4 linked regions of the Homo sapiens genome follow. The protein of the gene in region 1 binds, or shares a complex with, the protein of each later gene. Each region holds a gene or a part of one and is shown on either strand. Other genes may lie near its edges. The genes, in order: NUP107, NUP153, CETN2 and NUP93.

Region 1 (7,030 bases):
AGTTTAAAAAAAAAAGAACAAAACAAAAGTATGTATACTCTTGTACATCAAGAAAAGAAAGATTTTATTCCAAGTGCAATAAGAAGGCATCAGAAAGTTCTGGGTAAGACAGTCGCATGTATTTTATTCTGAAAGGGTCACTAGTCCATCTGTATAAGGAACGATTGTATAAAGAACAGTGAGAAGCCACGGAAGACAGTAGAGGCTTGGACTAGAATGTGCTAGAGGTAGAGGTAGTGAAAGGTAGGTAAAGATGACCTGCCTGCTCCATTCTCTCTGCCATTCCTCTGTGCCACCAGCCCCAACACTAAGGGGACTATTCCAGTTATTTAAAAACTTGAGGGGTAGCTATACGAAAACAGCACATAATGCTAGGGCTATTGTGTACAGCCGTGCCTTGTACAAGGGTGGCTGGCCAAGCAAGTAAGTGGGGCTGAAATCTAGCCTGTGTTCTGTCTTACATATTGTGTGCACTTGCCATGGAACCTATCTATGTAAGGGAAGGGAATTCCAATTTTTTTTTTTTTTTTTTGAGACGGAGTCTCCCTTTGTTGCCCAGGCTGGAGTGCAGTGGCGCAATCTTGGCTCACTGAAACCTCCGCCTCCCTGGGTTCAATCGATTCTCCTGCCTCCACCTCCCTAGTAGCTGGGATTACAGGCGCGAGCCACCACACCCGGCTAATTTTTTGTATTTTTATTTTTATTTTTGAGACAGAGTCTCGCTCTGTTGCCAGGCTGGAGTGCAGTGGCGCAATCTCGGCTCACTGCAACCTCCGCCTCCCAGGTTCAAGTGATTCTTCTGCCTCAGCCTCCCAAGTAGCTGGGACTACAGGCACGTGCCACCATGCCTGGCTAGTTTTCTGTATTTTTAGTAGAGACAGGGTTTCACCATATTGGCCAGGATGATCTTGATCTCCTGATCTTCTGATCCACCAGCCTTGGCCTCCCAAAGTGCTGGGATTCAGGCGTGAGCCACCGTGCCCGGCCAATTTTTTGTATTTTTAGTAGAGACGGAGTTTCACCATATTGGCCAGGCTGGTCTCGAATTCCTGGCCTCACGTGATCTGCCCTCCTCGGCCTCCCAAAAGTGCTGGGATTATAGGGATGAGCCACCGTTCCCAGATAGAATTACAATTTTCTAATTCACATACAAGTGACACGTGTTAGCAGGGGCCTTGAACAATGCCCTACGTCATTGACTATGTAAGAGTATTAGGCTCAACAAAGGTGATTAAAATGTTATTAATCATTTAACTGTTCAAGAAATCTCTTTTCTGGATTAGTTTTAAAGAAATAATTGAGACTGAAGTTTTAAAGAAATAATTGAGACTGAATATTGATTTTAAAATCCCTGATGAAACAAAATGGTGTATCATTCATTGCCTTCCATCTCAACTCCATTTTTTTTTTTTTTTTTTTTTTGAGACAGGGTCTCACTCTGTCACCTAGGCTGAAGTGCAGTGGCACGATCTCGGCTCACTGCAACCTCTGCCTCCTGGGTTCAGGCCATTCTCCTGCCTCACTAGTAGCTGGGACTACAGGCATGCACCACCACACCAGGCTAATTTTTTTGTATTTTTAGTAGAAACGGGGTTTCCCCATGTTGTCCAGGCTGGTCTCAAGCTCCTGACCTCAGGTGATCCACCCACCTCAGCCTCTCAAAGTGCTAGGAGTACAGGCGTGAGCCACCACGCTTGGCCTCAACTCTAATTTTATGAGATCCCAAGACTATTTTGTGGCTTTCACTACCTAATCTACTTAATTAATAATTAGAATAGCAAAGATGTATGTATAAATAAAGCATTGAAGTCTTTTCAAAATTTAAGTGACACTTAATTAGCATTTTACAACATTAAAATTTTATCTTCAAGAGAATCAGCATGAATCAGATGAGAAAGGTTTTGCCAGAGGAACCTGTGGAAGGTTTAAAACGAGTCAAAGGAGTTCTATTACGAACGTTAGGATAAAAAGTGGAGACTTGGCTGGGCGCAGTGGCTCACGCCTGTAATCTCAGGCACTTTGGGAGGCCAAGGCAGGTGGGTCACCTGAGGTCAGGAGTTCGAGACCAGCCTGGCCAACATGGTGAGATCCCATCTCTACTAAAAATACAAAAATTAGCTGGGTGTGGTGGTGGATGCCTGTAATCCCAGCTACTTGGGAGGCTGAGGCAAGAGGATCTGGGAGGCGAGCCAAGATTGTGCCATTGCACTCCAGCCTGGGCGACAAGAGCAAAACTCTTTCTCAAAAAAAAAAAAAAAAAAAAAAGGTGGCGACACATTGACTCATGCCTGTAATCGCAGCACTTCAGGAGGCCAAGGTGGGAGGACAGCTTGAGGCTAGAAGTTCAAGACCAGCTTGGGCAACACAGCAAGATCCTGTGTCAAAAACAAACAAACAAAAAAGCCAGGCATGGTGGTGTGTGCTTGTTGTCCTAGCTACTGGGGAGGCTGAGGCAGAAGGACTGCTTGAGCCCAGAAGTTTGAGGCTGCAGTGAGCTATGATGAAGCCACTGTCCTCCAGCCTGGGTGATAGAGCAAGACCTTGTCTCTAAAACAAAAAAAGAAAAAATAAAGTGGAGACATTTAAGATAATTACTCCATCAGTAATAGTGGCAAATAGGGGCTCAAATTTAGTTCGCTGTCCTGCCTGTATTCTTTTTCCTCCTTCTGGTCAGAGAAGACAGGCTAAAAAAAAAATGCAATAGCTAAAATTAAAGAAAAAGTACTAAATAGATGAGGGTATGAAGAATGGCAAAAGGAAAGATACCAAGAACACTTACTGTTTTCTTTGTTCAAAATAACACATCAAATATCCAAGAAGCCAGTATTTCCAGCTCTCAGACAGCTCCTCAGGTCTACAGAGGATAAACTAAGCTACTCACTGTTTCTGTCATGCACCAGGGTCAGGCTGCAATGTCTTTCCCTTATATGACTATTATCTCAGTATCCTTCCTTTCTCCCATCTCAGCTCATCCAAATTCTACCAGTATGTTCAAGATTCAGTCAAATGCTATACATTTCAAGCATACGTTCCAGTTCCCTTTCAGGTGAAAACAATCTTTTCTTTTCCTGGACTCAGAAAATACTTAACCTGTGCCTTTCTTATGGCACTTGATACTTCTGTAGCTGGTTCTCAACACAGGCTATATATTATATTAAAGCACTGCAAGTGATTAAAAAAACAAAAATAAACCCCAGCCCTACCTCAGACCAATTACACCATAATCTCTGGGAGTGGAACCCTGTAGTGTTTTTAAAAAGTCTGCCAGGTCATTAAAATGGACAGCCCAGAGGTGAGAGCCCCTACCTTAGCTATGCCTTACTGATACTACTCGAGTTATCTTTATATCTGTAAATGGAGTGACATACATGTATAATTAAATTTTTAGGTCCAGAATTTTTTAAAAATTAGATTTTTGTATCCTCTGTGAACATAGTAAATGTGAACTAATAGTTTATCCAAGAATCAAATATTCCCATTCCCTAGGTAGTATTTTCAGTTTAGCTTAAAACATGGGATTTAGCTATATCTACAATTATGTAAAATCTGTAGATGCTCCCATTTAGAGACAGAATATTTTTAAAAAAGAACATGGTGAGTGTTTTGGTTTTTGGCTATAAACAATGCACACAGCTTACCTCTCTAACATCCACCATCCACCCTCCATCAACAAACAACAAGACGTTATACATTTTCTCCTTCACATCAGCAGTTAGGGCATCCAAATGCCCTTTCCAAATACCAAAATCCATCTGCAAAACAAACACAAGGCAGACATATAATGGATAAAACCCAATAAATAATGTATTTGGAAAATACAGACAGGAACATACATATAGAACATCATTCTAAAGAGTTGATGTTTCAGTCTGCCAAGTACAAAAATAAGTATCAACAGACTGCAGTTAAGTAAAACGCTAAAATGTTAACTTTGTAAATGAACGCTCATGTCACCTGAAGGCATTTTTCATGTTTGGTTAATTACCTACAGAAAAGTAACTAAACAGATTGCATCTTCCAAAGCAGGACATTAACAGGGAGATTACCTGTTATGATCGAAAGATAGTTGCTGAAGAAACGATCTCTTTAAATATACAACACACATTTATAAGATGCAGTAGGCACATCCTAGATCCATATTTAACTTACTTCATATTTCTTTTCTTTGTGTTCATGAGCCACTTTCTCAGTAAAAGTTGGTTGAGGTATCAAAGCAGGTTTTTGTGGAACTGAATTCATATGCTTAAACCACTCATTAAAGGTTTCATGGGCTTCCTAAAATGTGAAATAAAAAAACCAAAATATAAAATAACAAAAGTTTTCACTTTTATCGTTTCACCAACATTTTTAACATTTGATTCTTAGAAATAATTTTGCAGCATCAAGAAATAAAACTGTTCAATATATATTTTTTTCCCTCCAAAAATTCATATCATGAATAAATGTTTTGTCAAGTGACAAACAAGGTATATATATTGTGTTTTCTGGCATATTCTCCAATCTGAGCACCCTGATCGTATATGTATCTTGACATTCATCGCTCTGTAACATATGCATGTGTACTTGTCTTCTTAACTAGCCTATTAGTTTTTAGAGGGCAAGGATAGGGTGCTATCCACAGATTTGGCCCTACTACCTAACCCACTGTAATTACATAATTATTTATTGAATAAAATTTTTTTTTTGTTTTTGAGACAGGACCTTGCTCTGTCACCCAGACTGGAGTACATGATCTAATAAAGACAAGGCATGATCTCTGCTCACTGCAGCCTCAACTCCCTGGGCTCATGCGATCCTCCCACCTCAGCCTCTGAAGAAGCTGGGACTACAAGTACATGCTACCATGCCTGGCTAATTTTGTTTTATTTTTTTGTAGAGATGCAGGGGTCTCACTGTGTTGCTCAGGCCAGTCTTGAACTCCCAGGCTCAAGCAATGCTTCTGCCTTGGCATCCCGAAGTGTTGGGATTATAGGCGTGAGTCACCGCATCTAGCCTTGAATGAATTTTGAATGAGTATGCTGCTATTTTAGTCATAACAAACCTAGAGCATCTTGCTTTTTCTCAGTTATTGAAAAAAGCAGAAATTTAAAGCTGAGACATGCATCACAAAATCTTAAGAAAACATAACTTCCAGACATCATAGACACTATCTACCATGTGAGATGATCTTGGTTGGTTAGCATTGATTAGAGAATCATGCTAATGAAGATAAGGTCATGAAGTCAGTCCCCTTGTGGATGAGTCAGCACTATAGTCACAAGAGAGGTAAGATGAACCAACACTACTTCTAGAAAAAAGTTCAAACTCTGAGAGTGAATCCGAAAAATCATCATGAAGTAGGCACATCTGTGGCTTTCTTTACAGTCTCACCAAATAAGCTCTGATGCACAAATGTTCTCGGATAGCATTATCATCTTCAGCAGGAAGTGGACTTTCCATTCCTTGTTCCTCGCACTGATTATAGATTTCTGCTATAGAATCCTGAGGAATTTTCACAAATACTTCTTTTGCAGCTTCGTGCTTTTTTGATGCTGTGAAAAAAGATACACAATTTTGAATGCCTACGGACTTCTCTGTAATGGTTTCTAAAGGAGTCAAATCACTGGTTTACCAATTTTACAGTGACCTGTAACTATTTCAGGGCCCAAGGCACTCTGTTAAAGGTCTTGGTGATCTTTCTACCTGATAGACTGGCTTTTTCGTATCTCAATGTGATACTATCACAAAAGGATACATCAAATGCAGTTACTTTTACATACTTTTATGTCTTAAAGCAATTCATTTTTCAAAGTCGGATAGCCTTGAGATTATTTGCAAAATTGATTAGGACAATGAAAATTCACCATTAAAATATATTTTGTTTCATAATACCAGGTTTGATAGATAAAGAGTGGCTGGTTTTCTCCTCCCTATGGAAGGATCAAAAACAAAAAGCAACCCCCCACCCCAAATTCAAAAATACACGAATTTGAACAAAAACGTTTTAAAAAAGAATAAAAAATCTGGGTGTGGTGGTTCACGCCTATAATCCCAGCACTTCAGGAGGCTGAGGTGGGAGGATTGCTTCAGGCCAGGAGTTCGAGACCCGCCTAGGCAACATAGTGAGACCCCATCTCTAGAAAAAATTTTTTAAAAATTAGGTGGGTGTGGTGGTGGGTGCCTGTAGTCCCAGCTACTTGGGAGGCTGAGGTAGGAAGAAGAATGGAGCCCAGGAGTTTGAAGCTGCATAAAAATATACTATACCCAAGAATTTTCTCATAATTGCATTGCCTTGTTTCAGTGCTTCTGCCCTCTGCGCTGGGTCAAATACCAACCAGTCAATTACATCAATTTTTAAACGATCCTCCTATTTATTAAAGGGGAAAAAAAGAAAAAGGAATATCAGAGTTTTTTTTTTAAAGATATTCTACAAATTAGTAGAATTAACTTACACCTGTACTTCCAGTAAACATCATTTTCTCTCAAGTTATACAAAATTATGAAAGCATCTAACTTTCCTTAGTGTATTTTCATATTTAACAGCTCTCTATTAAATTATAGAAAATACTGCTGGGCATGCTGGCTCACACCCGTAATCCCAGCACTTTGGGAAGCCCAGGCGAGCGGATCTCTTGAGCTCATGAGTTCGAGACCAGCCTGGACAACATGGCAAAACCCCTTCTCTACAAAGAATACAAAAAATTAGCCAGGCATGGTGGCACATGCCTGTAATCCCAGCTACTCGGGAGACTGAGGGAGGGTGGCTTGAGCCTAGAAGGCGAAGGTTGCAGTAAGCAGAGATAGCGCCACTGCACTCCAGCCTTGGTAACAGAGCTAGACCTTGTTGTCTCAAGAAAATAAAAATAAAAATAAATTATAGAAAATATTAATCTGGAATTATATATTGTATGCCTTACCAACTTAACCACGTGATTCCTTTAAATGTTACTCTAAAATAGTTTTCTTAGATATAACTTTCTATTCCTTTCTGAAAATATGAGTAAGCAAGCTACATAAGTTAGTGATTAATCAAGTATTTAAAATAACCTGA
Region 2 (7,485 bases), on another chromosome or scaffold:
CGTATCAACTCTAAGACACCTTGGATCATAGGTGTTATGCTGTTAAGACATCATCTCCCCAAAATTAGATTTTTATTTTATCTAAGTACATTTAAGCTGTGATCAGGGGCCGGGCGCGGTGGCTCACGCCTGTAATCCCAGCACTTCGGGAGGCCGAAGCGGGGAGATCACGAGGTCAGGAGATCGAGATCGTCCTGGCTAACATGGTGAAACCCCGTCTCTACTAAAAATACAAAAAATTAGCTGGGCGTGGTGGCGGGCGCCTGTAGTTCCAGCTACTCTGGAGGCTGAGGCAGGAGAATGGCATTAACCCGGGAGGCGGAGCTTGCAGTGAGCCAAGATCGCGCCACTGCACTCCAGCCTGGGTGACAGAGCGAGACTCCGTCTCAAAAAAAAAAAAAAAAGCTGTGATAACTTCAGACATCTGGAAAATATTAATTCCCTTCTAACCTCTATTCAGACCATCCAATGACCTATATTTAAAACAAGTCATTTTTCTACATGTCATACAAGAAAATCTAAGCACTCAAAGGCATTCATAGGAGAAAAGAAAGCATGCATGTGTAACTTCCATTCTACAGACGGATTAGGTTAAATGGCCAGGCTTGTGACCTGAATTCTAATCTTAAATCTGCTCGCAAATACCCCTTTTCTTCACAAATTTGAAAACTAAGCACTTTATGTACATATCTGGGGGAAAACTGGTGGGAGTAGTAACAGTGCCAAACCTAACCATCAGTAGAGAACGACTGAAAATACCTGAACCACAATTTTTACTACTCAAACATTTCCCTCAAAATAAAAAACATTTAAGAAAACTAGAAGACAAAAAAAAAAAAATTCCTCAAATCTTTACTTTTTTTTTTTTTCTTCGAGACAAGAGTCTCGCTCTGTCGCCCAGGCTGGAGTGCAGGGGCAAGATCTCTGCTCACGGCAAGCTCCGCCTCCCGGGTTCAAGCCATTCTCCTGCCTCAGCCTCCCAAGTAGCTGGGACTACAGGCGCCTGCCACCACGCCCGGCTAATTTTTTGTATTTGTTAGTAGGGACGGGGTTTCACCGTCTCTGGATGGTCTGGATCTCCTGACCTCGGTGATCCACCCGCCTCGGCCTCCCAAAGTGCTGGGATTACAGGCGTGAGCCAACGCGCCCGACCCAAATCTTTACTTTTAAAAATCTGTTGATAATGACACAATTTAACAACATCAACCATGTGAAAGTGTGTAATCTTTATTAGCATCCAGAATAAAGTAATCTAGGAAGTCTACCTTTAACAGTAGGCAACAAGTTATCAGATCCTTTTGCTACACTTTTGTTTTTCAACAAATTTAAGACACACACTTCCCACCTCAGTATCACTGATAAGTGGCTTTATTAAAATAAGTTAACATTTTCCTATTCAATACTTCTAACAATCAATATTTTAAAAATGGAATTTTCTCAGAATCAACTATCTCATTTACAATTAGGATAATCCTTTTTTATAATTTTAAACATCCAGGAGTTCATACAGTGGCTAAACTATAAGACCACCAACATTCCTGGAGTGTCAAAAGTAACTATACTTCTAGAATACGCCTCATAATATTAAAATATTTTGTGTATGAGATCAGAGCTGGAGTCCCGGTCAACTGTGGAGAATGGCCAATTCCAGCCTCCAAAATAAAGGCGGGGGTGGCGGTGTTGGGGGGGGGGAGGGGAGTCGCGCAGCAGAGAAAAGACGTAAGGGTGGAGAGGGACTTTCAAAATGCCCCAGTGCCACGGTTAACTATAACCTGGTTAATAAAATCTAAGCCAATGCTCTCAAGACGAGGAGGGCCACAGGCAGGGGAAACCGAGAATTAACTCATAGGCTGAGACTAAGTTATTCCACTTTCCATGTAACAGCGCCCCCCACAACTCCCCGTCTGCCCCAGAGTTAAGATTCCAAGGGGCAGCCCCCCCTCCTCAAACACACTAAAGAAGGGACACCAGAAAACAGCAAGTATAAGGGCCATCAACCACATCTTTTCCTTTCTCCCTCGAGAGAACATGAGTAATACCCTCAAATTCCAAATCCCCGCCAAAAAATAAAGAAACGCGCGCATCATGGGCCTACAATTTCTTTTCCCGCCCAGAGCCTGCCTGGGAAAGCCCCTGACCCAGAGAGTTGGGGGAAAGGCGGCCCAAACCACACGTGTGCGCCGCAAGGCTGGGCCTGTCTCAGCCCACTTCCCGTCGCCACCCCCAACGGCCTGAGCTCCCCCGGAGCCTCACTCGGGCCTTTCCTCAGGCCCTCCTGTCTGCTCCACGTGGGGCGCCGGGGCCTCGAACCGCCCGTCCCCTCCAGCCGAGTTTCCCCACCCGCCAGGCCACCGCGGCGTCGGGGTCCCATACCTGATGCTGTTGTCGCCCCTGCTGGTAAGGCTTAATTGGCCCCTGGTGGCAACGCCGCGTCCGGATCTTGCCGCCACCGCCCCCTCCGACTCCTCCGGCTCCCGAGGCCATGGCGGAGCCTCCGCCGCTTCCCGCTCCGGGGCGGGTAAGGGGGCGGGAGAGGCAGAGGCGGAGGCCTTAGAGAGCCTCCCCCGCCGCCCGGCCCCGGCCCAAAAGTCCGCCCGCGCTGTCCACACAGTGGGCACAAGCACCCCAGGAACCGCGAGGTTGCGAGCAGGAGCGGAGAGAGGGTGAGTGCTGGCAGCGGGGAAGGGGGTGGCGGCCGCAGAGGCCGAGGAGGCTCCGGTCCGGCCGCCTCTGCGGACCCCCGCCTCTGTGTGTGTCACGGTCTCTATGGAGATCTCCCGCAGAGGACAGCACGAACAGTTCCCCGCGGTGCTGAGGCCTAACTCGACCGCCGACTGGTGGGAGTTCTTCCGTCGCCCTAGCCGTAGCTGCCGCAGTTGAAGCCGCTGGCGACGCCCGCCTACCCCTCCCCTGTGCGCACAGCGCCCGCCCCGCCGCCGTCGTCGTCGTCGTCCCTGCAGCCTCCGCCGCCGTTGCGCCTATTACCCCTGCTAAGGCGGCTGCCGCGGTCGCGAGCCAGAATGTCGTCACTCATCGGCGCCCGACGCATTTGCATCATCATGCTGCGACGAGCTGATAGGCAAAGAGGAAGGGCTGGTCGAGTCCACGCTCTCGGCCGCGCGGCACGCTGGGAAACGTAGTTCAACAACGGAACGCGGCTTCTCGGAAAGGAAGAGGGACGGGGAAGGAGATCTCCGGGGCGCCGCAGAGGCACAAAGCCAAGGGGTACTTTTGCTGTTCTTGGCTGTAAATTAGACTTTGAAAAGACACTTAACATAAAAACAGTAACCTCTTCCCATTCTCCTTCTCCCTGTCGGTTGGTTAAGTAGGCAGGAAGTAAGCAGACAGTAAAATCAAAGACAAGAGCTAATGATTTAAGAAGGAGGAAAAAAAAATCTGTGGTTGAAAAATAAAGTCCATGATCCTTAGAATTAGAAAATATATACGGCTTCATTAATGTTTCTTTAAACATATAAAGGTTTTGTTGCAGACACACGGGGCTGGAATTCTGGTTCTGCCACCCAACCTATTTGACCTTGGATGAATCAAAACCGTCTGAGCCTTAGCTTCCTCCTCCATAAAATGGGAGCTTTAAAATCCACCTTATAAAGCTGTTGTGAGGAGCAGACGTGATCATCTATGGAGAGCATGTATATTTGCTAATAGACGAAAAATGCGATGAATGATTACAATTATAACCCATGCAGTCAGCTAACATTAGGGGTAAGTGATATATCCTTAACAATAAAAGTATACTATATTTGCTCCAAATATTTAGGAAACTGAGTAAGTGAGCTAGACTCAAAGACTGAATCCACAAAATGTATATTCTAGGAGTTGACGATTAGAAAGGTCCTGGTGATCACATAGTCCAACCCTCTCATTCAACCAACCAGACAAGATGTCCAGAGAAATTTAGGTGGCACAATCAATGACACTGAGATGGGTAATCAAAGCCAGGACTATAACCCAACTTTTCTGTAAGAGCTAAAGACAAATAGCCAAATGATTAGGGAGGAAAAATATGTTGTGAAAAATCTTAGACTTACTATAAATCTTTTTTTTTCTTTCTTTCTTTCTTTCTTTTTTTCTGAGAGACAGAGTCTTGCCCTGTCGCCCAGGCTGGAGTGCAGTGGCGCGATCTTGGCTCACTGCACCCTTTGCCTCCCAGGTTCAAGCTATTCTCCTGCCTCGGCTTCCTAAGTAGCTGGGACTACAGGCGTGCACCACCACGCCCAGCTGATTTGTGTATTTTTAGTAGAGATGGGGTTTCGCCATGTTGGCCAGGCTGGCCTTGAACTCCTGACCTCAAGTGATCCACCCGCCTTGGCCTCCCAAAGTGCTGGGATTACCCGTGTGAGCCGCCACGCCCAGCCTATTTACTATAAATCTCCCACTTACTAGCTGTGTAGCCTTGGGGAAGTTACTGATCCTGTTTCTTTCTTTTTTTTTTTTTTTTGAGACGAAGTTTTTTCCTCTTGTTTTGCCCAGGCTGGAGTGCAATGGCGCAATCTCAGCAACCTCCACCTCCTGGGTTCAAGCGATTCTCCTGCCTCAGCCTCCCGAGTAGCTGGGATTACAGGCATGTGCCACGACGGCCGGCTAATTTTGTATTTTTACTAGAGATGGGGTTTCTCCATGTTGGTCAGGCTGGTCTCGAACTCTCAATCTCAGGTGATCTGCCCACGGCCTCCCAAAGTGCTGGGATTACAGGCGTGAGCCACCGCGCCCAGCCCACTGATCCTGTTTCTAAGCTTCGTTTTTTTCATCAGCAAATAGAGCGAATATTGACCTCACAGGGTAGTGGTCTGGTGAAAGGATTAATGTATATCTAGTTCATAGTAACTGCTTAGATAGAAAGCATCCAATATCAACCATCAATCAGATATAAATAATTAGTTCCAAGACATTTATACTATCTCCACAATCAAACTGCACAATTCAGGTTCATTGTTTAAATCATACAAGTGAAATTGTAAAGCCAGTCTTCTAGTACCTTTGAACTTGTACCTTTCAGCGCCTAAAGAAACTATGCTATACCAAGCATAGGTGTACACATCAATGGCTTTCAGTGGCACCTCTGACCATAACCATCAAGATCAAGACAAGTTGCCAAATATGATAAACAAAATTAATCTATTTTCCGCTGTCTCATCCTAGCTTCATGCCTCCTCCCACCACTAACTTCCCACTAAATTCTCCAGGTATGCCCCCTCTTCCTCCTGAAGCACTTCATCTTTCTTAAAGACAGTTGTTTCCCTCAGGTGCTATCTTCCTCCTATGCAGAAATCCTATTCTTCCACAAATCCATAGCTAGATATTTGACAGCCAAGTAAAGTAATTCACGATAAGCTAACTCATAGGGAAGATCTGTACCTGAATCTTTAATTGGGTTATACGTAGAGGAGATTAAACCATAGCCACATCCCATCTGCCCTCTTCACTCTATGAGACCCAGAGTTTCCACCACAGAACAGAGGACTGACTGGAATCAAAGCTCACCCCTTTCTTGGAGGCTATTCTTTGATGTGCTGGACACCCTTCACAGCCAACCTTTGAAAGGAAGAGAGACGCGAAAGAATTGGGCCAAATGTAGACAATGCTTCAGAAATAGAAGATTGGTAGAACTTGAGGAGATATGGGAAAATCCACATTCCTTTTACCCATGCTCTCAACTTTTTACCCATTTCCACAATTATTTTATTTCTTGGAAGTAAAATAGTATTTGAGGGAACTATAATGCATTAATCTCACATTCATGTGATTGAGTCATTGGAAGCCGTGCCAGGCTTGAGAGCAGAGAAGGAATAAAGAGACAGGAGGAAATCTGCATTCAACCTGGACCTAGTTTTTTCAGCCAAATAAATGGCATATTGGGAGACACTGCAATTCATGAAAAGCTTGTTGCTACAATAGTCCTCCTCTGCCAAGAAACTTCTTTATTTTGTTCCCCATATAATATAGTAGAAAGTGGCCGAGCACAGTGGCTCACACCTGTAATCCCAGCACTCTGGGAGGCCAAGGCGGGTGGATCACTGGAGGTCAGGAGTTCGAGACCAGCCTGGCCAACATGGTGAAACCTGTCTCCACTTAAAAAAAAAAAAAAAAAAATTAGCTGGGCGTGGTGGTGCTCACCTGTAGTCCCAGCCACTCGGGAAGCTGAGGCAGGAGAATCGCTTGAACCATGGAGGTGGAGGTTGCAGTGAACTGAGATCATGCCACTGCACTCCAGCCTGGGCCACAGAGTGAGACTCCATATCAAAAAAATTAAAAAATTAAAACAACAAATATATATATATATGTATATATATATATGTAACCAGCTGCCAATTATAAATTAGCAAATAGGCTGCTGACCCATCTCTAATAGATAAGGAGTATCCACTAATTAAAAGTGAAATACAATTTAGTCTAAACCCAACCTAGATTGAAAAAGAGCCATCATACATTCTTCAGAAGGTACTAATACAATTCTGGCCAAAAGAATGTTTAAAGATGACAAGTACAAGAAGTTACGAAATTTTATGTAGTTATTCCACCTTACCAAAACAAAATGAGGTATCTGCTGTGATGTCTATTAAAACAAATTATCACACTCATGCACAGCATAACAATGTTTCAATCAACAATGGGCCCAATATACAATGGTGGTCCCATAAAGAGCTGAAAAATTCGTATTGCCTGGTGATACTGTCTTTGTCCTAAGGTCTTATTGCAACACATTACTCACGTGTTTGTGGTGATGCTGGTATAAACAAACCTACTGTGTTGCCATTTGTGTAAAAGTGGAGTATGTACAATTATGTACAGTACAGAATACTTCATAATGATAAGTGGCTGTTTCTGGTTTATGTATTTACTATACCTTTTTTTTTTTTTTAACAGGCACTCCTTGCCATTTCCTGTTGCTACCATACTTTATTATTTTAAAGTGTATTCCTGGTCAGGCATGTGGCTCACACCCATAATCTCAGCACTTTGGGAAGCCAAGGCAGGAGGATCACTTGAGGCCAGGAGATTGAAACCAGCCTGGGCAACATAACGAGACCCCTTCTCTACAAAGAAATGAAAAAATTAGTTGAGCTTAGTGGTGTGCACCTGTAGTCCCAGCTACTAGGGAGGCTGAGGCAGGAGGATCACTTGAGCCCAGGAGTCTAAGGCTGCAGCGAGCTATGATCTCACCACTGCAGTCCAGCCTAGGTAACAGAGTGAGACCCCATCTCTAAAGAAAAAAATAAAGAAAATGAAGCTATTGGGTTTATTTATTATTTATTTATTTATTTATTGCCTGTTTGCTTGTATTTTAGGGAAAGAAGGGCCACACAACGGAAAGATATTTAAGGATGTAAATCATTGTATTCTCATTAACTTACTGTGTTCTCTCTCTATTGGGAATAAAGTAATATTTAAGACTAAATTAACTAATATGAGCAAATTTTGATTAACTACATATATCACTTGATTCCAACATGCCATATATTTCCT
Region 3 (7,427 bases), on another chromosome or scaffold:
ATAAAGGGAGGTCCGTGGGGGAAAAGTTTGTGTTCTCAAAAGCCAGATTTCACACCATGGCAGGCACTAAATCTAGTTACATGTGCTTGCAGTAGAAAAAGAAGACACTGATCTTAATAGAGGCTGGTCTTTTTCATGATGCGCAGGAACTCTTGCTCACTGACCTCTCCATCTCCATCTCGATCAGCTTCATCAATCATTTCCTATATGACAGTAAAGATTCAGGTTAATTTATAAACTAATGCCAAAAGGTGACTAAGTAATAGACTTTTTTTTTTTTAGAGATGGGGTCTCTATGCTGCCCACACTGGTCTCAAATTCCTGGCCACAAGAGATCCTCCTGCCTCAGCCTCCCAAAGTACTGGGATTATATGCATGATCCACTGTGCCTGGCAAGCAATAGACTTTTAATCTATGTGAATAGATAATTTGTATCTATGTGAATAGATCATTGTAGTCCACCCAATGCCAGTATGCTACTCCTGATAATAGCTTGGTTTCTGAAAAGTTATTTGAAAACCAACTCATACTTTGTCAAACATATCACCTGGGAGGGACCTTGAAGATTGCCTTGACTAGAGGGATTCCTGGAACCTAAAATAGTAAGCAAAATTGTGCATATGTGCATTTTTCTGGAAGCAGGGTTCATAGGTTTGTCTGACTATTAAAGGAGAATTAAGTTGTCTGCAGAGGGACAAAGTACACTGGCTTTTCTTCAAAGAGGTGCTCACACTAGGGAAAATGTAATGGAAAAGTCACAGAGGGCTCAAAGGTGGGAATTTTAAGTTCCAGTGTGATGCATTACAAACCTGCAGCTCCTCATCAGTCAGGTTCTCACCCAACTCCTTGGCCACGCGTTTCAGATTTTTGAACGAAATCTTCCCAGTTTCATCATCATCAAAGAGCTTGAAAGCTTTCAGGATTTCTTCTTTAGTATCTTTCTCAGACTTAACAAGTAGAACATAAAACACATGAGTAGGGGGACACCACGGTTGGTTACTACTGTCCTGTAGCCCTGCCACTGCCTGGTCAGGTCACCCTTTCCTTTTTAACAATGTAACTCGAGTCTAGACTTGCGGCAAGTGTCAGGAAGCCCATTTTGGCCTCAAAGAAACACCAGGCAAGCCAGGCACTCCATCCAAGGTGACGTTTGCTACCTATCGCTATATCTCTCCCTATCCCATATCTATTTCCTAACTGATTTGGAATTCTGTGGGAAGAGGTATCTGCTTGGAAGTCTTGAGAAAGAAGCACAAGGGCTTGTTTTGGGAGCCCAAAGTAACATGATGGGAGGGCAGGCCTCCTGATGCAGTTGCTACCTGGACTGCTCTGTGGTCACATGACTGTTTTAACAGGAAGACGCCATGGACCTCTGCAGATGACTGGGGCTCCATACCATGATAATTGTCTTAGCTACTTACCATTTTCTGGGTCATCACAGTTAAAAAGTCACCAAAGTTCATTTTTCCTGTCCCTTCCTTATCAATTTCACTTATCATTTTCTTAATTTCTTCTTTCTTGGGTTCAAAGCCCAGGGCCCTCATTGCCACCTATAAAGAAAACAGGATCGTCTCAATAAGCACATCTAAAGTAGCAGGAGCAAAAATAACAGTGTTGAGAGCATTAAGCCAGCATCTGATGTGGTCATGTTAATATGATTGGGGAACACTATGACATTGATCTAATTGATATTTGCAATCAATTTTATTGAATAATACTCAAAGTAAGTAAAGACAGGAAAACAGCACAGTACAACCTCCCCTGTTACTTACTGCAGGGAGAAGAGGGCAAAAGGGGTAGAGAGGTGATAGGGAGATGACAAGGAAGAGGCAGAGGAAAGGAAGGGCAGTACGGCAGGAATGCACAGAGCTTGCCTTCAGTTCTTTAACATCTATGGTGCCAGTTCCATCCGCATCGAAAAGATCAAAAGCTTCCCGGATCTCCTGCTTTTGCTCTTCAGTAAGCTCAGGCTTAGGGCTCATTCTTTTTCGCTGAGAACTTGATGCCATGTTTGCCTTCTTAAAGTTGGAGGCCTTTATATGTTATGCAATACACAAGCACAATAATATATCATACAGTCCATATTTACATAACATAGTTACAGACACCCATATGTATTTTTAAAGTCATTTATATAACCAATTCCAAAGCTTTGCTTAAAAAGAAAGATAACAGGGTTTACTGGCAAGAACAATGAATCTTTCCATGAACTTCTACCCCTCCCTTTTCTTTACTGTTGTTTCTAGAAGCAGGGAGATCACTTGTTCAGTAAGGACACCTCTTACTGAAAATCATCCCAAAAGAGAGCCAGTCAAGAAGATGACTGTGAATAACTAGAGATAATCAGCTCTTCCCGAACGTGGGGATCCTGGTTCTGAAAACAGTCTTACGATGCCCACTCCCAGTACTCCCCTTCCCAGTAAGTACTCCGACTTCCCAATTACTTCTAGATTTGGCCAAATATTAGTAAGTTGTTAAGATGTATATTGTGTCAGTACCGAGTAATAAAACTCAATCCATCTGGCACCTTCGTGCCTTCTCCAAGAAGCTAAAGCATCCCCTGAATGCCCCTGTATTTAAATTGTAAAAAACATTGTAACAGAACACGATACACCTTTTCCCAGCTGTGTGTGGAAATTTTGGCAGAATGAGGAGGCCAGGGGGCCAAGGTCTGAGAGAGTCAGGGGCCTGTGAGGGATTCGAGTCTTTTTTGCCCAGGGAGGTTCACCGAGGGGATCAGGGAATGCAAGGGGAGCCCGAGGGGCGGGTGTGGGCCTGTTGTGGGTGAAGAGGAGGCAGCAGCGAAGCGCAGGCCCAGTAGGTTGGTTAGCGTCTGTACCCTACTCTCCCGGGAAAGAGCTCAAAGGAAAGACTGGTGCGCTAAAGCCGAGAAAGGCGCAGGAGAGGCGGCGTGGCCGAGCTGGGGCCTGGGAAGGGCTCAGCCGCTGGGCGTGGGGCGCGACAGAGCGGCAGCACTCACCATAGCCAAAGGAGTCCGCTGCCGGTTGTTAGGCAACCGACGTGTACACTGACTCGGCGCCGTTCCCACCGCCCCGCGCGCGCAGCCCCGCTCCCCATTGGCCGTCCGCTCGTCGCCGCCTCTCCCTATTGGTGCAGGGCCGAAGAGGGTGGGACTAACCTGGCAAAGCCCCGGCCCAGCGCGGGGAGGGGCACGCTGGCGACAGAGCCCCGTCTTTATTGGGCAAGATCACGCCGTGAGCGCCAATTGGCTGAGTCGTCGCCGAGCTGGGCCAATCCTCTTGGTGGAGGAAGCTCGGCTGATTCTCGGCTCACGCGGGAGGGGAGTAAAGGGTGGCGGTCCGGGCCTGGAGTTCAGTGGGTGCAGCCTGCTTGCGAGCTGAGGCCAGACAGGGGGGCGCCTACGGACGGGTAAGAGTCGTGGCCTTGCCATTGGAGGTCACCCTGTGTCAGCGACTGGGCAGTGCGGGAGGGTGGGGAGCTACGGGGTCGCCCGGGTCGGGTGCTTTCTGGGTTGACCTAAGGCTGAGTTTAGGGACCGAGTGCATCAGAGCAGCCAGAAACGATTACCTTGCGTGTTGGAGCAGGGACTGTACTCACGGGGCAACTGAGACCCGGAGAGGGGAAGGGGTGTGCTGAGTGTTGTCGCAGAGGTCGGACGGCTGGGACCTAGGAACTGAATCCAGCCGAGGCTCGCTCTTTGAGGGTGGCCCTTCGAGAGCACCCCTAGACTGACCCAGATGTATAGGCCCCAGACCAGGTTCCAAGAGAGGATCACTTTAGATCTTACCTGGCTAAAAGCAGCCCAGGACGGTGAACTGGGGCCTTTGGGAACGGACTTTGAAAGGAGTGAGGGGGATGTGAGCGAGCATGAGGGGCGGGGAGAGGTCATCAAAATATACTCTTTTTGACACCCACACAATGCAGATAAGGAGGAGCATTCCAGGCCGAGACGCCCTCATCAGCAGAGTCACAGGAGTTTTGGAAGTGAGAGGTATGCTTGGAGAATTAAAAGGGAGCGTGTGCAAGGGCTGTGGACTGACATAGACCTGCAGAAGTGGAGCTGGAGGTCCAGTTTGCCCTCTTTAGCTATCCCCGTGGCTTTTAGCCTTCACCTGTTTTTCCTCCAGGCATAGGGGCAGTAATCTAGGGAGACAGAGGGCAGAGAGTAAGTTTCTCAGACAGAGAAAGGCCCGAGGCTTATTAGAACCTTTTAAATGGAGCTGCTGCCCTTTGCCCTCTTCTCTCTTCAGCAGTGAACAGATTCCTGACTTTTGGGTCATCATCATCCCCCCAAGTAGTACGAGCCAGAGTTCTCACTGTGATCTCCAAAGCTTGGCACGACGTGTCCCCTTCCATCGCTCCACAACTCTTCTCTCGTCTGGCTCACTCCAGCCCCAGAACACTGGCTTTGTGGTTGAACCTCATGTGCCAGCCACACTCCTGCCTCTCATCTTTGTCTCAGTTGTCCTCTCCGCCTGCCTCCTCTTAGGCACCCTATTTAAGTATTGCAGCCCCCAGTACAAACAAGCCACTCACCTTGCTCTACTTTTTTTTCCAACAGTTCTTATCCCCTTCTGACCTACTGTATATTTTGCTTGTTTGTTTTGCTCTTTGTTGTCCCTCCACTAGAAGGCAGGCTGTCTGAGGGCAGGCATCTTTGTTGTATTCACTACTGGTACTCCAGGACCTAGAACAGAGAGGGGCACATATTAGACAACTGATGAGTAGCTCCCCTGTTTCCCAGCTCTCACCTAGCTAGTCCTCCCTGCTCTACCAGGTTAATCTTCGTAGTGAACGGCCCTGGTCAGGGCATCTCCCTGCTCTTAAACCTTCAGAGCCTGAACCGTAAAGGGCTCCTTAGCCTGGCCTGTGATCCCTCTGCCCAGTTTTGCCCCTGGTAACCCTTCTAGCTTAATGTCCCTCCATACCTTGCTTCCCAGTCCGTCAACCTGCAGATCGGAAGCCTGACAGAGTACAAGGGAAAAACACAAGTTCTGCGCAGGCTGTGTGCAGGCTGTGTGACCTTGGGCAAGTCGCTTAACCTCTCTGAGCCTGTTTCTCATTTGTTGAGTGAGACCAGTACTGTCTACCTGATGGGATACTTTTGCATCTCAATGGGATGAACTACTTATATGTAAAGTGGCCTGATGTTGAGCAGGTCTTCAGGCAGTATTACAGTTGACCCCTGAACAACATGGGTTTGAACCTTGTGAGTCCATTTACAGGCAGATTTTTTTCTCATCTCTCCCACCGCTGAGCAGCAGGATCAGCTCCTCCTCATCTTCCTTCTCAGCATACTCATCAGGAAGACCGTGAGGATGGAGACCATGATGATCCACTTTCACTCAGTGAATAGTAAATATATTTTCTCTTCCTTATGATTTCATAGTAACATTTTCTTTTCTCTAGCTTAATTTATTGCTGGGACACAGTATGTAATACATGTAATGTACAAAATATTTGTTCATCAACTGTTTACATTATTGGTAAGGCTTCCAGCCAACAGTAAGCTATATTAGTGAAGTTTTAGGTGAGTCAAAAGTTATATGTGGATTTTTGACTTCGGGGCTCCGTGCCCCTAACCCCCACATTGTTCAAGAGTCAAATGTAGTTCTTGTCTCTGATTTGCTCTTGTCATTCCCCCCCGCCCACCATGCCTGGAGCCTTAGACTTGTCCAAAATCTCTTCCCTGCACTGCAGCCAAGGTGATCTTTCCAGTCGCAACACTCACTCCTGCTTCCAACTTCTAGGGGCTCCACCATCTTTCCCCCCTTGTAACTCCCTAGCTTGGCACACAGCCCCCACATGTTCTCAACTTTGCTCCCGATCTTGCTTCACACTTGCTGTGACACAGCTTGTCACTGTTATAAGAACATGCTGGCTCTGTGCCATCACTTTGTCCTTCCCACCCTGGCCATGGAATGTCTTTCAGGACACCATGCGCTCTGTTTTACTCACTCTTCTGGGGCCTTTTGAAGTCAGCTTAGGGATCTCCTAGTTGGGGCAGGCTTCCCTGAGCCAGCAGCCTGCATTGGTGCTCTGGGCTTGCCCTCATCAGAGTGGAAACGCACTTCTGTGACTCTTTGCTTGCTCCTGTCTCCCACCCTAGATGGCGGGCTCCTTGAAGGTTGGCAGTGTGTCTTTGTCAGCTTCTGCCTGGTAGTGGCTGGCATTTGATAACTTGTGAATGAGGAAATCAATGCATGAGGTGACACCTGGGGGTTCTTTTACAAGTTACAGCTCCCGCTTTAACCCTGGGGGTTTGTTTGAGCCTCACAGTAGCTCTGAGGTAGGGAAGAAGGACGCTGTTTTACAGATAAGGCCTCATGGCCAGCGGCAGCACGATAATTCACTCAAACCCATCTTCCATTCCAGGCTGTCTGCTGGGCCTCCAGGGGCTCGTGGTGTCCTACAGGGTGCTGAGTGTGAGGATGAGAGCAGAAACAGGTGCTGTGGAAGCGACTCACCTTCCCTGGGGAGGGGGAGGAAGTTTCACAGAGGGGGCAGTTCAGCTAGGCCTTGAAGGAAGAGGAGGCACTCACCGTGGAGAGGAGAGAGAAGGTATTCCATGCAGAGGAACAGCGTAAGCTAAGCTCACAGGCATGCTGCTGGGTTTCTGAGAGGTCTACCACAAAATAAAAGCTGGCGACTTTTTTTGTCCTAAAAGTAAATAGAGAAACAAACAACTGGTGGAAACATGGACACCGCAGGTCCGTGGAAGGACAAGGTCAAGCTGGGTTGCCCCAGCATAATCAAGGCTAAAGTGACACCTCTAAAGAGAAATGACCTCCAAGCTATTGGCCTCACTAATCCTAATCTGGGTATTTTCTTTCCCATATCACATCTTTGAATTCTGAAAGGGAGGCTTTATTGTTGTTCCTACAGGGCTCCTGCTTTGCTGTATTTTCTCTAAGAAATATGTCCATAATGAAGGTGTGTGCCGCCTCAGGTGAATCCTTCTCTTTGCATCTGATCATCTGGCCCAGTCCTGCAGAGGAGGCCAAGCATGAGGCATGAGGTGATGGGAAATAGGGGAATCCTCTTTTATAATCCAAGGCTTAGGCCCCCATTTCAGGATTCCAAAGAAAGTTCTAAGAAACATTACTTGGCATTCCTTGGATAGCCAAACTCTACTGAGGTGTTTGGGGAAGGGCAGTTTGCCTGGCATTGTCTGCCCATGGACTGAAGGGATGAGCTCTCAGTGGCCACATTCTAGCTTCCTGCACTGGACCTTGTGCAAGGGTGGGGCTCCGACAACCTTTCCCCTTTACAAAGATGTCACACTTCTTTCTAGAAGGACGGGACGCTCTCATCTCTCTCCCTAGTTTGAGACAGAATGTTCTCTCCTTTTCCCTCCAGGAAATGTTCCCCAGCAGGAAGGAGGAGGTTGGGCTAACTCGCTTCTCTCTTCTCGCTTCACATGAGGCGGCACACACCTTCATTAT
Region 4 (7,256 bases), on another chromosome or scaffold:
GAGCCCATTTGATGCATCATGATCACCCAGTCTGTAGTTTACATTAGGGTTTACTCTTGGTGTTGTACATTCTGTGGGTTCAAGCAAATTTGTAATGCCGTGTATCTAAAAGCCTCATCTTTTTAATAATTAAAGTTGACCATTGTCTTCACTGAACTTACACAGAAACAAAACCATGCAATATAATTCTGTATTCCTTGCCAAGTTACAATGTCATTGTGGAACAAAATGCAATGAACATGAAAATAAGACTTTCTCAGCTTCTTTGTAAATGGAACTGTTTAATATTATTTTGTTAATGGGTAGAATAAAATGTAATCTGATGGTGAAAACATTCTTCTTGACATTGTGGAAAATACCTCCCTATATTGCATGTGATGGAAAAGCAATTCGACTGGGAAAAGTTTACTGAATTAAGCTTACTGAATTCTGGCCTATTGACCTTATAATAAGCATGTTAGATGAGACGTTATAAGGGCTCAAGTAATACCTGCATCCTTCAGGATTATTTTGATTGCAAGTGATGTAAAACCTCAGTGAAATTGAGCAAAAAATAAAATTTTCTGGGTCATGCAACAAAACATTCCAGGGTTAGGGTTAGCTTTAGGCACAGCTTGATCCAGAAGCTGTGTCACAATGTCACTTGAGTACAGGCTCTCTCTCCATCACTACATGGCTCTCTTCTGTATTGTCTTCCTCCCCAGACAAATTCTTCCCTTGTGGACAATAAACAAACAGGCCGGGCATGGTGGCTCATGCCTGTAATCCCAGCACTTTGAGAGGCCAAGGAGGGCAGATCACTTGAAGTCAGGAGTTCCAGACCAGCCTGGCCAATATGGTGAAACCCCGTCTCTACTAAAAATACAAAAATTAGCTGGGTGTGGTGGCATACACCTGTAATCCAAGCAACTAGGGAGCCTGAGGCACAAGAATCACTTGAACCTGAGAGGCAGGGGTTACAATAAGCCAAGATTGTGCCACTGCACTCCAGCCTGGGCAACAGAGTGTAACTCTGTCTCAAAATAAACAAACAAACAAACAAACAAACAAAAATTTGAAAGGAATGATAATGCCTACAAAAACATCTTCACAGTTCTAATTTATTCCAGTCATAAAGATAAGTGTCTGAGCAGAACATCTTAAGAGTGCATTTTCTTGATCCTATTGGGTTCTAAACCAGTTCCTGAACCAGTCCCTGTGGCCAGGGTACTGCACTACTCTGCTCTGATTGGCGAGGCCTGAGTCACATGCCACCAATCAAAACACAGGGACTGAGATTTGGGGCAGGAACGCTCCACAGGGGAGTCCAAGTGTTAAAAGACGTCCCATTAGAGAGCAAATGTCTGGTAATACGGTATAGTGCGTTGAATACACATCCCATATACTCAATGAGTTCATCTGAAGACTAAGAATATTCAAAAGCACAATTCAACCAGACGAGAGTACAAAGGCCTGTGTTTGTTTGATATCATCATGCAGCCAAAAAAGGTAGAGTTATACACTTGGTATGTATAGAAGACATGCAAAATCTGTGTTACAATACAGGGTTCCATCAAATACTTCCTTTGAAAAACAGGATTCTGTTAAATAATGTTTGGGACCCAGTAGGACTAAATGAGGGAAGGTAAGGACTCTCCACCACCACCCAGCTCCCTTTTAAGTAGGAAAGAGCTTGAAAATCCCCACCTCTGAGAAAGGGGCCTTGCGGGGGCTCTGGGGCACATCTCAGAACAATTCTCAAGGCAAAGGCTCTTGAAAGATTCTGAGCTCAGATAAAGTGATGTTTAAGGAAGCTCTTCTGGCAAGGCATGAGCCAATGCACCCAGTTCTCTTAAAAACAAGAAAACAAAAAACAAACCAAAAAAACCAAATAATATATTGTTTATGCACAGATACATTTGTGATAAAACTATAAAACATTGGAATGATAAATATGAAATGTCAGATTGTGGTTATCTCTGGGGATAGGAAGGTATATGGGAAGACCATCTGGAAAACTGCAAGGTTTTTTAAGATGAGGTGTCACTCTGTTGCACAGGCTGGAGAGCAGTGGCACGACCAGGGCTCACTGCAGCCTTGACCACCTGGGCTCAGGTGATCCTCCCACCTCAGCCTCCCCAGTAGCTGGGACTACAGCTGCACACTACCATGCCCAGCCAATTTTTTTGTATTTTTTGTAGAGACAGGGTTTCACCATTTGCCCAGGCTGGTCTTGAACTCTGAGGCTCAAGCTACCCTCTTGCCTCAGCCTCCCAAAGTGCTGAGATTACAGGCGTGAACCACTGTGCCTGGCCACTTTTTCCATTTAACATTATGTTTCCAAGATTCATCCATGGTGTATCTGTGGCTGAAGCACACTCATTTTTCACTGCTGTGTAATGCTCCATTGCATAATATCCCACAATTTATTTATCCTTTTTTTTTTTTTTTGGTTAACAGATATTTGGCTTGTTTCAAGTTTTTTGCTAATATGAACTGTGCTGCTATGAAGATTCTTACTTATAACTCCTGGTGCATATGTGTAAGAGTTTCTCTAGGGCATATATCTAGGAGTTGAATTACTGGGTTTTACAATGTAGAAATATTCAGCTTTAAAAGGCAAGTGTCCGGAATTTTCATTTGGCAATATTGCACAAGCATTTGTCTATGTCATTAAAAGTGCTTTTTTTTTTTTTTTTTACATAAAGAAAAAGCAAAGTAAAAGTATAAAACATTATTCAGATGCAAGATACTATTATCTTTGTGGATATTCTCTGACCATAGCGGGGTCTGGTTACATATATAATAGCTTCAGGGCAAAGGCCACATTCATACATATTGTTAATCAGCACCAATTATTTATAGAGAACTCACAATATGCTGGTGTGAGGTATTAAAAATAAACAAAGCTGGACACTAGTTGCTATAGACTTCTTAATGTTTGTGTCCTCCCCCTTCAAATTTATATGTTGAAACTCTGCTCTCCATTGGGATGGTATTAAGAGGGGAGGACTTTGGTAGGTGATTGGGTCATGAGAGTGAAGCCCTCATGAATGGGATTAGAGCCCTAATAAAAGAAATATTGGAGAGCTCCCCTCACCCTTCTGTGTGTGGTTACAGGGAGAAGAGTGCTATATTAGTCCGTTCTCATGCTGCTGTGAAGAAATACCTGAAACCAGGTCATTTATAAAGAAACGAGGTTTAATTGACTCACAGTTCCGCATGGCTGGGGAGGCCTCAGGAAACTTATAATTATGGTGGAAGGCACATGTTCACAGGGCAGCAGGACAGGGAATGAGTGCAAGCAGGGGAAATGCCAGACGCTTATAAAACCACCAGATCTCATGAGACTTACTATCGTGAGAACAGCATGCCAGAAACTGCCCCCCATGATCTGGTTACCTCCACCTGGTCTCACCCTTGATATGTGGAGATTATGGGGATTATAATTCAAGGTGAGATTTGGGTGGGGACACAGAGCCAAACCATATCAAGTGCTATCTATGAATTAGGAGGCAGGCCCTCAGCAGACACTGAATCTGCGGGTGCTTTAATCTAAGGCTTCCCAGCCTCTAGAACTGTGAGAAAAAAATTTCTGTTGTGTATAAGCCATCCAGTCTATGGATGAGTCTGACCCCACTTGTCCCTACTCACCATCTTCCAGCCGCACACCCCTTCTTTCTAGTCTCCAAACACTAAGCTGGCTTCCCCTGGAGACTTCACTCTTGTTCCCTCTGCCTGGAATTCTTTGAAGCCAGAACTTTGCAAGCCCCATCCTTTCTCATCCTTCTTTATTCAGCTCAAGATGTCGCCATCTCAGAAAGGCCTCCCTTCAACATCCAAGCATTCTCTCTCCCATCACCCTGTTTTTTCTTCATAGCTCTTCTTGCAAAGTGCAGTTATTTATTACATTTTTGTTTCCCCTGCCAACCTGGGAACTCAATGAGGGCAGCGATCTTGTCTGACGTGGTCGCCACGGTGTTGCCAGTTCCTAGACTAAGGCCTGGCCCTTGGATGGCGCTCAAGAAGGAGTAAGAAATTCCTTTAACTTAGGGAATTCTGGAATCGCTTTCTCCCGGCAGAGCCGACTCTAACCAAGTGGGAAAGGCGAGGTCCGTGGCTGCCTGTGGCCCAGGGGTGACGGTTTGGCCCAAGGCCCCACCTCCGCCCCGCCCCCGGCCCCGCCCCTGTTCTTGTCCTCCCCCACGGGTCTCCATAAAGTTCATTTGGCGTCGCACCGCGCGAGGGCTTCTGGGAGCGGCCAGCCTTGGCCAATCAGGAAGCGGGGGAGAGCGGCGCGAGAAGCGGCGGCCGCGTCCTCAAGCCGGCACCTGAGCGGCGGAGACGGCTGTAGCACAAGGTAAGGGTGTGTCTGGTCGCGTCCTTGCGACCCTGGGCTTGTCCTTGAACCCAGGACCCCGTGACTGGGTGGAGCGCCGTCCCCACGCTCGGAACCCCGCCGCTCATACTTCCCGTTCTCCTCATGGCAGCCGGGCACGCCTGACGCCGGCGACACAACGCCTTGTCGAGCCGCCCCCGAGGCTTGGAGTCGGGCTGCATCCCTGGGGGTGCCTTTCATTCGTCCACTTTCTGAATGCAGAACCTAGGCCTCCCGACTCCCCCTTCCCCACTGTGGTGCCCTCGCGCCACGCCCCTGCCCTCACCTCCACCTCGTGCCCCGCGAGCCCACCCTGCCTAAGCCTGCGCCACAACGCCCCGCCTGCTTACCTTCCTGACCGTGCCCTGCCTGCTTGCCTACCCCTCGTGGACACACCCTGTAGGGAGGCGTTGCTCTGCGAGGGAAGGGGTCTTTGGGGCGAGGGGAACTTATCCCAACCCTTGGCTTACCTTTTGTACATCCAGGAGGATGCTGGTGATTGGAACCCAGGGGTGGCCCACCCTTCTCTGTGCTTACTCCATCCCGTTCCCTGCAGAGGCGATGCCCAAGTTCACTGGGTTTCTTTTGAAAAAATTATGGGGCCGACCCCATGGGTCCTTGGTGAAAGTATGAAAGACACGTTGACAGAGCCTCTGGTCTGGATTTGCCCTTCTGCCAGACGTGGGAAGGAGGTTTTATTTATTTAATTTTTATTTTGACCGAGTTGTCTTTCAGCAAAAGCGAGGGTCACCTTTTTGTATTCTTTCCAGGGTATGTGGGAGGGTATCCTCGGTCATCCTAGCTTTTCTTCTTTATTTTTTTTTCTTTAAATTCTCCTTTGTGCATTTGTGTTTGCAATATTTTTATTTTCATTGATGGTGATTTCATAGCATTAAATACATACATATCAGAGGCTAACAGATTCCGTATTTATATCTCCATCGCAGGTCTCACCCCTGACTTTTATCCAGCCACCCACTTAATATCTCCACTGAGATGGGTTATAGGCAACTCAAATTAAACATGCCAAGAGAGGGCTAGCAAGCTCCCCTTCATTACTCTCCCCAAACTGCTCCTGTTGCCTCTTTTTTCTCATCTCAATAATAGGAAAGACCTTGGCTAATAACTTTTGAGCCATCGTTGACTGCTGTCTTTCTTTTTCTTTTCTTTCCTTTTTTTTTTTTTCTTTTGAGACAGTCTCCCTCGGTCGCTCAGTCTGGAGTGCAGTGGTGCGATCTCGTGTCATCGTGTGACTGCAACCTCTGCCTCCCAGGCTCAAGTGATTCTCCTACTTCGGCCTCCCAAGTAGCTGGGATTACAGGCGTGTACCACCTCACCTGGCTAATTTTTGTATTTTTAGTAGAGACGGGATTTCACCATGTTGGCCAGGCTGGTCTTGAACTCCTGGCCTCAAGTGATCCGCCCATTTCGGCCTCCCACAAAAGTGTTGGAATTACAGGTGTGGGCCACCACACCCAGTCTTCTGTTTTTCACGCCACAAATAATACTTGCCACCCTGGGCCAGGTCACCACCTCTGGTTTGGATTATTGAAATAGTTTCCCATTTGGTCTTCCTGCTTCTGTCCTGGCCCCTGTTTTTTGCACAGCAGCTAGAGGGATCTTTTTAAAACACAGGCTGTCAGATCGTATCATTCCTTTACTTAAAAGAAAAAAAAAACCCTCCAATGGGTCCCCATCTCATTAATAATGATAGACAAACCCCTTTACAGTGAGCTATAAGGCTTTACATAATCTGACCCACTGTTACTTTCCCAGTCTCATTTTCTGCTCCCTCCCTTTCCAAACGTCAGACATGCTTTAGCCTCAGGGCATTTGTGCTTGCAAGTTAATATCCATGTAGTTTGCACTCACTTCTTCCAGGTCTTCACTAGGGAGGCACCTAGTGAGGCTTTCCCCATTTCCCGCCTCCCTTCATTGCTTTAGTTGTTCTTAGCACTTATATTTCACGTATTTTTCTTGTGTATTGTTGTCTTCCCCCTGTAGAATGTGAGTGAGGGGATTTTTATCTGTTTTGTTCACTGATGTGTTCCTAGCACCTAGGTCTGGCACACAGTAGGTGCTCAAAAAATATGAACTAGATGAATGTTACTGGCACTCTTGCAGGCATGGGGATGCAGTGGTGAATGAGACAGGCCTGCCCTCATTGAACTGATAAGCCTGTGGAGGGTACCACTAGCAATAAAAGCACAGATAGGAAGTGTGATGTCAGGGCTGTTTCTTAAAGGAGGACAGGGATATTTGAATAGAGACCTGCTTGAAATGAATGAGCAGGTCATGGGACTATCTGAGAGCATTGCTGGTAGTGGGTAGAGCAGGTGCAAAGACCGTGCAGTGTGAACAGCTGGAGATGTGGTGAGCCTGAGGGTCTGAACCAGCCTCTTCATAGACTGATGTAGAAAATAAGGTTGACAGAAAGATGGATGTGCCAAGGAGGGGGACAGGTTGGAGCAAAGATCCGAAGGTGAGAGGGCCCACTCCTCATGAAAAAGTTTATTTAAAGAATATGGAGTTAGAGGGAAGATCTTTCACTGGTGTGTTCAGGGAACAGGTCACTTTAATTCAACAAATATGTATCTGATCCTGTTATGTGCCAGACTTAATGCTGAGGACTCAGAGTTGAGCATCTGTGGACCTTACCCTATAGGAAATTTGCCACTAGAGAGGGAGACATATGTGTGATGAAATAATCACAACTGCTGCACTAGGGAAGAACAGTATAGAAGATTCAGAGTAGTGTGGGAGGGGTTGGCATAGGTGGGACTTTCCCAGCTGGCTGCAGCATACATAGGAGTTCCCCATGTGACAAGATAGGGTTGGGGATGTGTTATAGAGAGTGTGTACTTAGCATGTACAGGAGTATGAAGGGAGGAAACAGGCA

What was found.
Region 2: NUP107 (region 1) and NUP153 share a complex: the UniProt entries of both Homo sapiens proteins name them as parts of the nuclear pore complex.
Region 3: NUP107 (region 1) and CETN2 share a complex: the UniProt entries of both Homo sapiens proteins name them as parts of the nuclear pore complex.
Region 4: NUP107 (region 1) and NUP93 share a complex: the UniProt entries of both Homo sapiens proteins name them as parts of the nuclear pore complex.

Annotation. Positions count from the first base shown.
Region 1 is NC_000012.12:68,731,953-68,738,982, reverse strand, and holds part of NUP107 (nuclear pore complex protein Nup107), read right to left. Parts: intron 6,347-7,030; coding exon 6,244-6,346; intron 5,532-6,243; coding exon 5,371-5,531; intron 4,276-5,370; coding exon 4,150-4,275; intron 3,753-4,149; coding exon 3,639-3,752; intron 1-3,638. UniProt on the Homo sapiens protein: Plays a role in the nuclear pore complex (NPC) assembly and/or maintenance. Required for the assembly of peripheral proteins into the NPC. May anchor NUP62 to the NPC. Involved in nephrogenesis.
Region 2 is NC_000006.12:17,703,904-17,711,388, forward strand, and holds the start of NUP153 (nuclear pore complex protein Nup153), read right to left. Parts: upstream 3,023-7,485; 5' UTR 2,485-3,022; coding exon 2,374-2,484; exon of another isoform or gene 2,227-2,373; intron 1-2,226. UniProt on the Homo sapiens protein: Component of the nuclear pore complex (NPC), a complex required for the trafficking across the nuclear envelope. Functions as a scaffolding element in the nuclear phase of the NPC essential for normal nucleocytoplasmic transport of proteins and mRNAs.
Region 3 is NC_000023.11:152,827,728-152,835,154, forward strand, and holds the start of CETN2 (centrin-2), read right to left. Parts: upstream 3,031-7,427; 5' UTR 2,984-3,030; coding exon 2,981-2,983; intron 2,034-2,980; coding exon 1,875-2,033; intron 1,551-1,874; coding exon 1,422-1,550; intron 948-1,421; coding exon 810-947; intron 204-809; coding exon 114-203; 3' UTR 1-113. Other genes in the region: NSDHL (sterol-4-alpha-carboxylate 3-dehydrogenase, decarboxylating), read left to right, coding at 6,996-7,000. UniProt on the Homo sapiens protein: Plays a fundamental role in microtubule organizing center structure and function. Required for centriole duplication and correct spindle formation. Has a role in regulating cytokinesis and genome stability via cooperation with CALM1 and CCP110.
Region 4 is NC_000016.10:56,725,873-56,733,128, forward strand, and holds the start of NUP93 (nuclear pore complex protein Nup93), read left to right. Parts: upstream 1-4,256; 5' UTR 4,257-4,339; intron 4,340-7,256. UniProt on the Homo sapiens protein: Plays a role in the nuclear pore complex (NPC) assembly and/or maintenance. May anchor nucleoporins, but not NUP153 and TPR, to the NPC. During renal development, regulates podocyte migration and proliferation through SMAD4 signaling.